Linked DNA regions of Homo sapiens. The protein of the gene in region 3 interacts with the protein of the main gene of each other region in a biochemical or structural test. Each region holds a gene or a part of one and is shown on either strand. Other genes may lie near its edges.

Evidence for each region.
Region 1: the proteins of GRB14 (region 3) and DAPK3 form a complex in vitro, tested with the Homo sapiens proteins (one study listed by BioGRID).
Region 2: the proteins of GRB14 (region 3) and MET form a complex in vitro, tested with the Homo sapiens proteins (one large-scale study listed by BioGRID and IntAct).

Annotation. Positions count from the first base shown.
Region 1 is NC_000019.10:3,964,546-3,968,198, forward strand, and holds part of DAPK3 (death-associated protein kinase 3), read right to left. Parts: intron 447-3,653; coding exon 86-446; intron 1-85. UniProt on the Homo sapiens protein: Serine/threonine kinase which is involved in the regulation of apoptosis, autophagy, transcription, translation and actin cytoskeleton reorganization. Involved in the regulation of smooth muscle contraction.
Region 2 is NC_000007.14:116,678,601-116,682,253, reverse strand, and holds part of MET (hepatocyte growth factor receptor isoform b preproprotein), read right to left. Parts: intron 1-3,653. UniProt on the Homo sapiens protein: Receptor tyrosine kinase that transduces signals from the extracellular matrix into the cytoplasm by binding to hepatocyte growth factor/HGF ligand. Regulates many physiological processes including proliferation, scattering, morphogenesis and survival.
Region 3 is NC_000002.12:164,495,830-164,499,482, forward strand, and holds part of GRB14 (growth factor receptor-bound protein 14), read right to left. Parts: intron 1,662-3,653; coding exon 1,545-1,661; intron 1,455-1,544; coding exon 1,382-1,454; intron 1,267-1,381; coding exon 1,179-1,266; intron 1-1,178. UniProt on the Homo sapiens protein: Adapter protein which modulates coupling of cell surface receptor kinases with specific signaling pathways. Binds to, and suppresses signals from, the activated insulin receptor (INSR). Potent inhibitor of insulin-stimulated MAPK3 phosphorylation.

The DNA.
Region 1 (3,653 bases), on a different chromosome or scaffold from region 3:
CAGGAGGTGCCTTCCAGGCTCTTCCCCGCCCCATCCCCACCCCCACACTGGCCAGGCCGGCCCCACAGGGCCCTACAGGGCTCACCTTCAGGTCAAAGTGTGCGATGCGCTTAGAGTGCAGGTAGTGAACGCCGTCCAGGATCTGCTTGAGGAACTGGGTGGCCTCGTCCTCCGTCAGCGACTCCTTCTCCGCCAGGAAGTCAAAGAGCTCCCCGCCAGAGACCAGCTCCAGGATGAGGACCACGTCCGTCTTGTTCTCGAAGATGTCGTGCAGGGTGATGATGTTGGGGTGCCGGATCTCCCGCAGGATGTTCACCTCCCGCTCGATCTCCTCCCGGCTCACCCCACGCCGGCTGGATGACAGGCGGCGCTTCTTGATGAACTTGGCTGCGTACTCCTTGCCCGTGCCCTTCTGCCGGCACTTCCGCACGATCGCAAACTGGCCGCTGGAGGAGGGGGAGGGAGTGAGTGGGGGTGGAGGAGGCGGAGGGAGTAAGTGGGGGTGGCTGGCTCCCCGTCACCTCCACTTGCTCCTCTTGGGCGCGGCCCTGCACCAGGCACTTGAAGGACATGAGCTGGCCACTGCGGGGGTGCAGACTCTGCGCCTTCTCAGAGAGCAATTCCTTAGCGCCCCACACCATCAGACGCGGCGTTCCCACCCCTCCCAGGGCTATGCCCAGCAGGTGTGTGGAGGGGAGTGCAGAGCCACACGTTAACACCATGGCACCGGCGTATTTTTGAAAAGTGAAAGAATGAACAGTTCAATGCATATCAAGAGGGAACTGAGGGGGCCAGGCGCGGTGGCTCACGCCTGTAATCCCAGCACTTTGGGAGTTCGAGGAGGGCAGATAACTTGAGCTGAGGAGTTCAAGAGCAGCCTGGCCAACATGGTGAAACCCTGTCTCTACCAAAAATACAAAAAATTAGCTGGGTGTGGTGGCGGGTGCCTGTAATCCCAGCTACTTGGGAGGCTGAGGCAGGAGAATCGCTTGAACCTGGGAGGCAGAGGTTGCAGTGAACTGAGATTGTGCCACTGTACTCCAGCCTGGGCAACGTAGCAAGATCCTGCCTCAAAAAAATAAAAAGTGCAAGGCAAGTGCCAGATCCGCTTTTTTTGTTTTTGTTTTGTTTTGTCTTGAGACAGGGTCTGGCCCTGTTGCTCAGGCTGGAATGCAGTGGTTCAGTCATGGCTCACTGCAGCCTTGACCTCCTGGGCTCGGGCAATCCTCCTGCCTCAGCCTCTCAAGCAGCTGGGACTACAGGCACATACCACCACACCCAATTAATTTTTTTTTCTTTTTGTAAGGATGAGGTCTCACTATGTTGCCCACGCTGGTCTCGAACTCCTGGGCTCAAGTGATCCCTCCCAAGTAGGTGGGACTACAGGAACACACTACCACACCTGATTTATTTATTTTTTGTAGAGACAGGGTCTTGCCGTATTGCCCAGGCTGCTTTGGAACTCCTGGCCTCAAGAGATCCTCCCACTCCCCCACCCCAAGTGTTGGCAGTACAGGTGGAGCCGCTACATCTGGCCAGTATCCGCATTTTAAAGAAACCAAGGCTGAGAAAAGGAAAGCAACTAGCCCAAGGTCATGCAGTCAGTCAGTGGCGGGAGGATTCAAACCTTCAAACCAGGTGCTGCAGGCTCCAGAGCCCAGGTGCTCTAACAGGAAGCAGACAGCTGCTGCTGGGTACCGGGTTCCTGCGTGCCTACCTCCCGGCTCCACGCTGTCTCCTGCTAACAGACCCAGCTGTCCCAGGGCAGCCTTTGCCGCTCACTCTCAGTCTGTGGGACTCAGTGGCCCAGGAAAGGGGTGGAAGGGGACACGACTGGACCTGGGCAAGCAGAAAACCACGCCTTCCAGCCCAAAGAGACCGGTCCAGTCCACAGGGCTCTGAACGCCTGCTGGGAAGAGAGGATCTCTCTCTCCCTCTGCTGGGCTTGGATCCAGGCTCGCGGCAGGGGCCACCACGTAGAAGGCTACCTAAGAAGCCTGCCTAAGAACAGACCAGGCCAGGAGAGGGGAGCCACCAGGCACTGCGGGTGGCACATAAGCCCCGTCATTCACTCTGCCAGGGCGCCTCCTCCATGCTGGAGTGGACTTCGGCCCCGGGGACACAGGGCACCATATGCACCAGCACCCAGTCACACCTGCGGCCGCTGCACACCTGGACAACCTGGTTCTGTAAACCACGCCTTTCCCTGTTTTGCTATTGCCAACCAGATTTCAGGTTCTGCCACTGAGTCCTCCTACAGCAACAGCAGACCACAGCCGCCCACCTCCAGACAGCCCCCGGTCTCACTGGCCACAGACTTGCTCCTTAGAGGCAAGGCCACTGGCAGGCTCTCAGTTCCTCTACGGAATGTGAAACGTGCCTCATCTCCCCAGCCGGGAAAGAAACTCCCCAAGAGCTGAGCCCACCCTCTTCGCTTCTCTGTAACTTCCCCAGCCCCCAGCGCAGGTGGGGGCACAGCAAGCCCTCCTCAGTGATGGTCTCAGGTGTCACTCCCAACCCACTTCCTAAGTGCCTGCCACAACCCAGACACGACCCAAGCGTGGCCTACACACCGACAATTTCTACTGATAGAGTTCATGATGTTTAAAAATGCGGGCTGGGAAGCCGGGCACAGTGGCTCACGCCTGTAATCCCAGCACTTTGGGAGGCAAAAGCGTGCAGATCACGATGTCAGGAGTTCAAGACTAGCCTGACCAACATAGTGAAAGCCACGTCTCTACTAAAAATACAAAAACATTAGCCGGGCGTGCTGGCAGGCATCTATAATCCCAGCTACTCGGGAGGCTGAGGCAAGGAGAATCGCTTGAACCTGGGAGACGGAGGTTGCAGTGAGCTGAGATTGCGGCATTGCACTCCAGCCCGGGCGACACTGCAAGACTCCGTCTCAAAAAAAAAGTGTGGGCTGGGGCCAGGCACAGTGGCTCACACCTGTAATCCCAGCACTTTGGGAGGCAGAGGCGGGCAGATCATTTGAGGTCAGGAGTTCAAGACCAGCCTGGCCAACATGGCAAAACCCCGTCTCTACTAAAAATACAAAAATTAGCTGAGCACGTTGGTGGGCGCCTGTAATTCCAGCTACTTGGAAGGCTGAAGCAGGAGAATCACTTGAACCCGGGAGGCGAAGATTGCAGTGAGCCAAGATGGCACCACTGCACTCCAGTCTCGGCAACAGAGCCAGACACCGTCTCAAACAAACAAACAAAAATTGCTACATTCTGGGCCTTCATCTTGCACTTCATGTATCTCTGAGAATGTTCCAGACCACTACCTGAAGCAGTGCCGTCAGAACAGCAGACACTGGCCACCCAGAGCTGTCAAACCCGTGAGGTGTGGCCAGTCCCGAGAAAAACTGCGACATGAAATACACACCAGACCTCCAAGGCTTCACGGCAAAAACAGAAGGCTAAATACTTTTTTTAAAATTATGAATTTCTGTTTGTTTGAGAGATGGGGGTCAACTTATGTTGCCCAGGCTAGTCTTGAAGTCCTGGGCTCAAGCGATCCTCCCGCCTTGGCCTCCCAAAGCGCTAGAATTACAGGCGGAAGCCGCCGCACCTGGCCCTGCCTGGTTCTTTTTACAAGCTGCATCCTATTCCAGCCCTGATGCAGTGGTTTGGGGAAGGCCATTTAAG
Region 2 (3,653 bases), on a different chromosome or scaffold from region 3:
AGTAATTAATCAACTTATGACATAGATTCAAGGGCTGTCACCTTTCATTGTCATTAATGAAACTGTCTGGGATTTTATCTGCACTTTTCTGGTGATTTAAAGAACAATTTTTTTTTGGTAAGTTCTTTGAAGACCAAAAGAATGTTTAAAATCACTGGGCCTTGACGTACAGATTTCAATGAACAATAATCCAAGTATGTGTTAGTGAGACCGAAATAAAATTTAGAAATATCTTAATTTTGACAAGACAGAAAGGGAATTTTTGAAAAGTCCAAAATGCATATTCATTTATGTTAGGAGGAAGTTTTTTTTTTTGTCAACAATCTCTGCTTTGGTTACTTCTTTACATAATACAAATTACAAATATCATACTATTTGATACTCATTAAAAACAACAATAGCTAAGGTAATATTTTAAGCCCAAAGGTTTGCCTAGGTCCTAAGTGATCATATTGGCTTGCTGTCTTTGTATTAACCAGATGGTTGTGAGACCACAGTCTCACTTTGGACAGTGTAGCCATTGGCTGGAGCCATATGAATTCTGCCTGAAGTGAGGGCAGAATCAGATGAAAGTGGCTCACCTAAGACCCTCAGAGGAGCCAAAAGACAAGTAGTGAAGGCAGGCCTTGATAGAAGCTTTCCTTGAATCTTTATATCACTGTCTAAATTCGTATTTAGAATAGAAAAATACAATTCCTACATCCATGCTAGTATGAACTTTGTATAGTCAAGGACCAAAGAAATGGTTTCAAGGTAGTATCCTCAAGGAAAGCTAATATATATCCCCAGAGACAATATCCCAGTGGAAAAGGATTACAGATAACAGGTTTTAGGGCCATAACTTTTGGTCCCAACAGGAATTTATAGATTATAATGAGCTAGATATGCTAGAATATTTCAGTCATGAAAATGGTGTAAAACCTTTATAAATTTGCCTGAGTTTTCTTTTTATATTTTGATTTCCTCAGAGAAAATGGAATTTCATTTAGAGTGCCTGGGAGTAGATAACAGAGTGCTTAGAACATGCCTCTGACACTCAGAATAAAAGCTTTCTCTGCTTCTGTGACATATTCCTGCTATTCTTCCTGGTAACTGAGGGGAGGACAGACTAAGAGGCCCAATTTAGGACTGGATAGATGATAGTCTATCTTTCTCCAGAATCAAACCACATGTAACACAAGTTGGCAGAAATTTAGACTTTGTAAAGCAATGTCTAAATTTTCCCACCATTTCCCAAGGTGGGAAAATGGTAAAGGTACCATTTTCCCATGAGCTTTACTTTATTCCATACCCTCCCTCCCCCACTTTTTCTGAGACAGGGTCTCTCTTTGTCACCCATGCTGGAGTGCAGTGGTATGATCTCGGCTCACTACAGCCTTGGCCTCCCAGGCTCAGGTGATCCTCCCACCTCAGCCTCCTGAGTAGCTGGGACTGCAAGTGTGCGCCACCATGTCCAGCTACTTTTTGTAATTTTTTTAAGAGGGGGGTTTTGCTATGTTGCCCAGGCTGGTCTCAAACTCCTGAGCTCAAGCCATCCACCCACCTTGGCCTCCTAAAGTGCTGGGATTACAAGCGTGAGCCACTGTGCCTGGCCTATACACCATTTTGACCTGCCTCTTTCCTACTTAGAATTCAGGCAGCCTGATTCTTAATGGGACACCCTCTTTATGACTTAGGGTGCACTCAAGCCCATGACCCTTCAGCATATCCCGCCCACCTTTCCCCTTCCTTTGCTCATTGATCCAATATCCCATCTAAACCTCCAGGCCTTCTCCTTTATTATCTATTTTCTATATATGGCATAAGAATTGTCATAAAAAATCTTTCTTAAATTGAACTACATTTTCCCAACTGTTCAAATACTCAGGCATTCATTCATTTTTCAAGTTGTGAGACCTTTACATTGGAATTTTAAAAGTCATGTAAATACGAATGTGTACAAAAACACTGATATATGATTTATTACTGATGGTTTGGTTCCACCAATGAAATAAAAATTAGGCATGTCTAAACAAAGCTGTATAAATAAGTCAGTGCTGATACAGTGCCATCTACAATTAAATGTCAAAACAAGCTGTAATGATAATGTATTTAGTAAATCTTCAGGTTAACCTAAGAGAATCTCTATTTTAAGACCCTATTAACACAATTTTCCTTTTACCCCCCCGCCCCCTCAAGATATAAGAAATTGCCAATTCCATCACCCCAAATGTGATACTAAAACAGCATGCTTTTCACCAGGAAAGGTTTTCTGAGGATAAAAATGTGATGAGCCATTAGAAATTCACAATATGGTATCAAGAAAGATCTCAATGCCTATATTTTAGCATGATAGTTTATTTCTTTAAGAGAGAAGGAGCTGCTGTCTCCAAAGCAGCCATTCTTTAATCATGTCATTTGAAATGCACTTAAAGCTATGTCAAATTCATATAGGAAGTCTGGTTACCAGAAAATACACATTCACAAACAGGAAATCTAACTACAGCAAGAAGGTGTTTTCCCCCGACACAATAGAGTTCAAAGATGTGTCATCCATGTAATTTGGAGCAATACCCAACACCACTCTTATTGCTGAGTATTCCTCTCTCCCCTCTCCTATATTATGACAACTCGTGATTATAGCATTACGTTTTCTAAGCCTGTTTGGACTTGCTGCTCTTGCTTATACATACAAGCGACCTGCCCTTTTTCTGTGCATAGCTTTCAATCAGTAAGCATGTCAAGGTGGGAGGAAGGATGACAGGAATAGTAAAAGGGGGAAAATCAATTTTCAGAAAGCATATGGCAACAACTGAATATTTAATCAAATTAGTCTAGAAATTCCTTCCTATTTTCAGCACTCTTTGCAAGGCAGTTGCTTCATGGTGCAAAATGAATTTCAATAAATGTCATATATTTAGTTAGATGGCTTATTTTAAAAATTTGTCGAACAAGGTCACTGACTTAGAATAGATCTTATTCCAAGGTATGACAGATGGATATCAATATTGAATAGAAGAACTGACATTAGCTAGAAGTTTCTGGGCAGAAGAAAGAGTCATTCAACACTCTACAAAATACTTACTGAGTACCTACTATGTGCCAGAATAAAATGATGAATATTTGGGCTTTGTATTTATATTACAAAACAGAGAGGAAATGTGTCAAAATAATTTCCTTGGGGTTAGTAAGGATTACAACTGAGTATTACTGGTAAACAAGGACTTTAAAAAGTGCTTAAAATTTTCACATTGCATCATTCAAACATCCATACTGTCATGGTTGCAAGATTTTAGACCTAATCAGATTTTTGAGGATGCTGTTTATTGACGCTTAGCAAAAACCAACTTCCTATTTTTTTCTGGAACAAAAAGGCCTTACACAATTTTAGAGATCTCTTGGACATCAAAGAGCTTAGAGGGACATACAGTTTGTGAGTAATGATTTAAGATTTAGTGAATCAAAGACACATGGATTAAATTTCCCTTAAAAGACCCCTAGGTTTAAAATTTAATAGCTAAAATGCTGGTCTAGATACACTCTGGTCCCAATGCTGGTCCCAAGCAAAGCCAAAACCTATTTTTAAAGCTAGGTTGAATTGTCTTATGGACCCAAACCTTGGCTGGGTTTTCCTTTCCCACATGATTAGGCCTCAAAGGAGGCAACCTATCTCT
Region 3 (3,653 bases):
CACCATCACATCTCTCCAAAAGAATACCAAAAATACTAAAAATAAGATAGTATCTTTTTTTATACGATCATTTCATTCACTTTATAAATACTGGGCTCAGAAATAAAGAAAATTACAATCTTTCAAAACATTTTAATAATTCTTTGTGACTCATTTATTTTCTTGGTTTCATCAGATTGTAATTCTACTGATTGTTCAAATTTATTTCCAAAAAGACTGCATTCCATGCAAAGAAACGTATTAAAATATCTTATTTACAGTCTGGGGAAATGCTGACTTCCTATTAATAATCTTCCATGTGAAGAAGCATTGTTATCCAAATTTCAGTATTAAATCACCTTGAAATCTTGTCATGATAATGACATGATTAGCCAACTTTTGAAGATAAAAGATCCCATCACCACTTGTTTAAATTGATAATGATTTCATTACTCATCTAAACCACAATACAACCTCCCTCATTTGTACTGCATTTGGAAAGGGAATTCAGCCAGTATTATAGAAAGTATCTGAAACACTGAGTAATTTGAGAAAAATAAAATTCTTCACATTATAAATCTTTCATAATACATTTTATATTTCTCTTTTGTATTCCATGGTACCCCACTAAAAGACAACATGAGAAACAGTTGAAAGGTACTCTTTTCACGGATCTATATTACTTTAAGATGTTAAAATTTAGAGAAAGGACAATAGGGATGTAAACACACAAAAAAATAAGTGTTCAAAACACTTAAGAAACAGCTTTTTACTTAATACATGTTGCATCATACCTAAAAAAATACATTTGACATAATGTCATAATATAAACCATACTTCGAAATCATATGTTCAAATCAAAATATTGACACTTAAAAAGAAGTTCATTTTCCCCCATCAATTGATATCTGAGATGCTAGAATCAGGACATAATGGGTAATATTAGTGATCACTGGTTAAGAACAAGATACTCTATTCCGTTATTTGTCCATTTATATACAAATACCAGACACACACTATGTACCAGGTATAATATAGATACTGTTAGAATACAGTGATGACCTCATTTATAGAACAATGTCACTTCTGTTTTATGATAAGCCCAAATCAAGAACTCTTTGTGGCTATGGAATAAATAATTTCTGCTTATAGGAGAAATCCAATTCACAAGTACTCAAAATTAAAAATACCAAACTTACCCATCCACAAGTCCTTGCTGAATAATCAATCGCTGAGCCTCATCTCTAGAAATTTTGTGGTGAAACCATGGCTGGGACCGGTGGATAGCTAAAGAAATAGGATGGATGAATGCAAAGCTTTGTTTGAGATGACTGCAATTTCATTACATGTCCTTTCCATGTCTATCCGTCTACTCAGTGGCAATGACTATGAACAGACATACCCATGTTTGTGGCAGAGCTCTGTGAAGAGGCAGTGGGGCTACCGTGAGTGCCCAGGCGTAAACATCCTTTTTTCTGAGCAAGGAAGGAGAAAACAAATCTCAAGTTTTTAGGTGAAACAAACTGAAATCATAAATATTTTGAAGCATGTGAAGCTACTTGTACCCTCCAAGCGAGTCCTTCTTCAACCGCAACTGAAAGGGCTTCAGTGGGATTTTCTATAACTCTGCTTTTCTGGCCTGAGAAGTCCATTGCTACCAGGGAATTCTCTGATATACTTCTCTGGAAAAAAGAAACACATTTGAGTTATGAAAATTTCTTTGAAAGTTATCTTTCAAATAAATTGAAAGTGTTTTTCAATTTCAGTGTTTTTCTCTCAGTGTTTTTCTGGCAGTACATTTCCATTCTAGAAGGTGGTGCCTGAAGGGGCTAGCAGAATATTTAAAGTGAAAATACATATTCAAGATATAAAGGTGCTAAAAATATTTTTGTTAAAAAAGCTAAATAGTAATTTGTTAAGGTAATTGAAGAGTTGAATAAACAGATTAAAAGCTTTTAAAGTATGTCTTTCTTCTAAAACAAACTTATCTTTTCACGTTCTCTAGTAAAATGGGAAAACTTCCATTTAGAAAGGAATAGCTCTTCCTCTGGTTAAAAAGATACATTGTTTCTGAATTGATGTCTCCATTAAGCTTTGAGATCCGTCAGTCATCAATTAAATGTCAAATCCATCTACTTATGAAGCAACTAGTTTTTAAGATTCAAGATACCCAAAAGTTATAACTTAGATTGACATATATCTCTTGAGAAATAATACTCATTATTTTTAATGAGTTTTATAATGGAGCAAACTAGAATATGTATTTTAAAAGTTTATCACATCAACTTTCATCTTACTTAGAAAATAAAATTTAGTGAAAGAATAATCCTGATAATTCCATAACCTTAAAATTTCCATGATTTAACATATGAATACATTTTCATCTTGTGAGAATACACTTGGCCACATGAGGGCTGCAAAAATAAGCCTGAATAAGAACTGATAGAAGGCAACTTTAAAGAAACTTAGTTTAAACAAATGATAAAGTCATTGTTTTTGCTAACTACTTCTTGTATTTATATTCTTTGAGTTGAAAGTAAAATATGCAAAACCCGATCTTCTTTTTCTTTTTTGTTTGTTTGGGGCTCTACTTTACAACCATCTTTTAACAAATATGCCACCCCACAACAAGTCATGAATCCTAAGAAAGACCATTGTCAAAATCTCTAGTCAAGAATCCCACTCAGTTCATAAGTTCATACAACATCAAGAAGGAATTAAAATTCTCCAAAAGAAAAATTTTAAAACACCCATGGAAAATAACAGTTATTTTCTACTAATTAATAGAAGAGCAAAACCCAAAGTGGTGTTATAATAGTAAACTACTAGCCAGCCTGCATCTGGGGCCCCCTGGCTTAAAAGCATTTTATCTCTCTTTATGTAGATTCAGCTATACCTGGCTTGGTTGCATAGACTATAGTCAAATGTAGGCTTCAAACAAAACCTTATCCACAGATAACTATAGGACTCCTTTATCACTGCTTCAACATATCCCACTTTATTAGCATTTGTAATTTTCTCTTCAAACTATGCTGTAGTGGCCTACAATCTTATTATGGTTCATCTATATTTCTAAAGATCTGGCATGCAATCTTTCATTTGTTACAGGAGCCTTTATAACTGACAGCTGCTCTTTCCACACAGATGCTGTCTCTGTAATCTCTATTTGCTGTCACACCTTAGTTTGCCCTTCTCACCCCGTGATCTTCTGTGCAGGTCTGTAGACCAGTCAGATATACTTGTGCTTTGCTGACATTAATGAAAAGCATCCACCTGCCCAAACCACAGAGTAAGCTTCCTCAATCATAATAGCTTTATCCTTATAATATCTCTCCGTTTACATGCCAAGGTAGGTTCTGTAATCTCAACTCCCTGGCAACATAAAAATACCATTATATTAAGAAAAAAATAATCAGCTGTCCTATTTTTCTCCCTCTAGTATAGCAGGCCAGGAAATAAAACAAGATCCTGTGTTCCCTATTTACTTGACATACATAAGAAGACGACACTACAAATAAGGAACGTTTTCATTTGCTACATTAACTAGATTAACGGAAAACACAGGACTATAGCAAATGTCTTCTACTGAATGGCAGGTGGTAGATAGAAAATTAATAGTTTACCATTGGTGGACAAAAAAATGGAAGTAAAGCAGAGTCTGACAAACTCAAAAG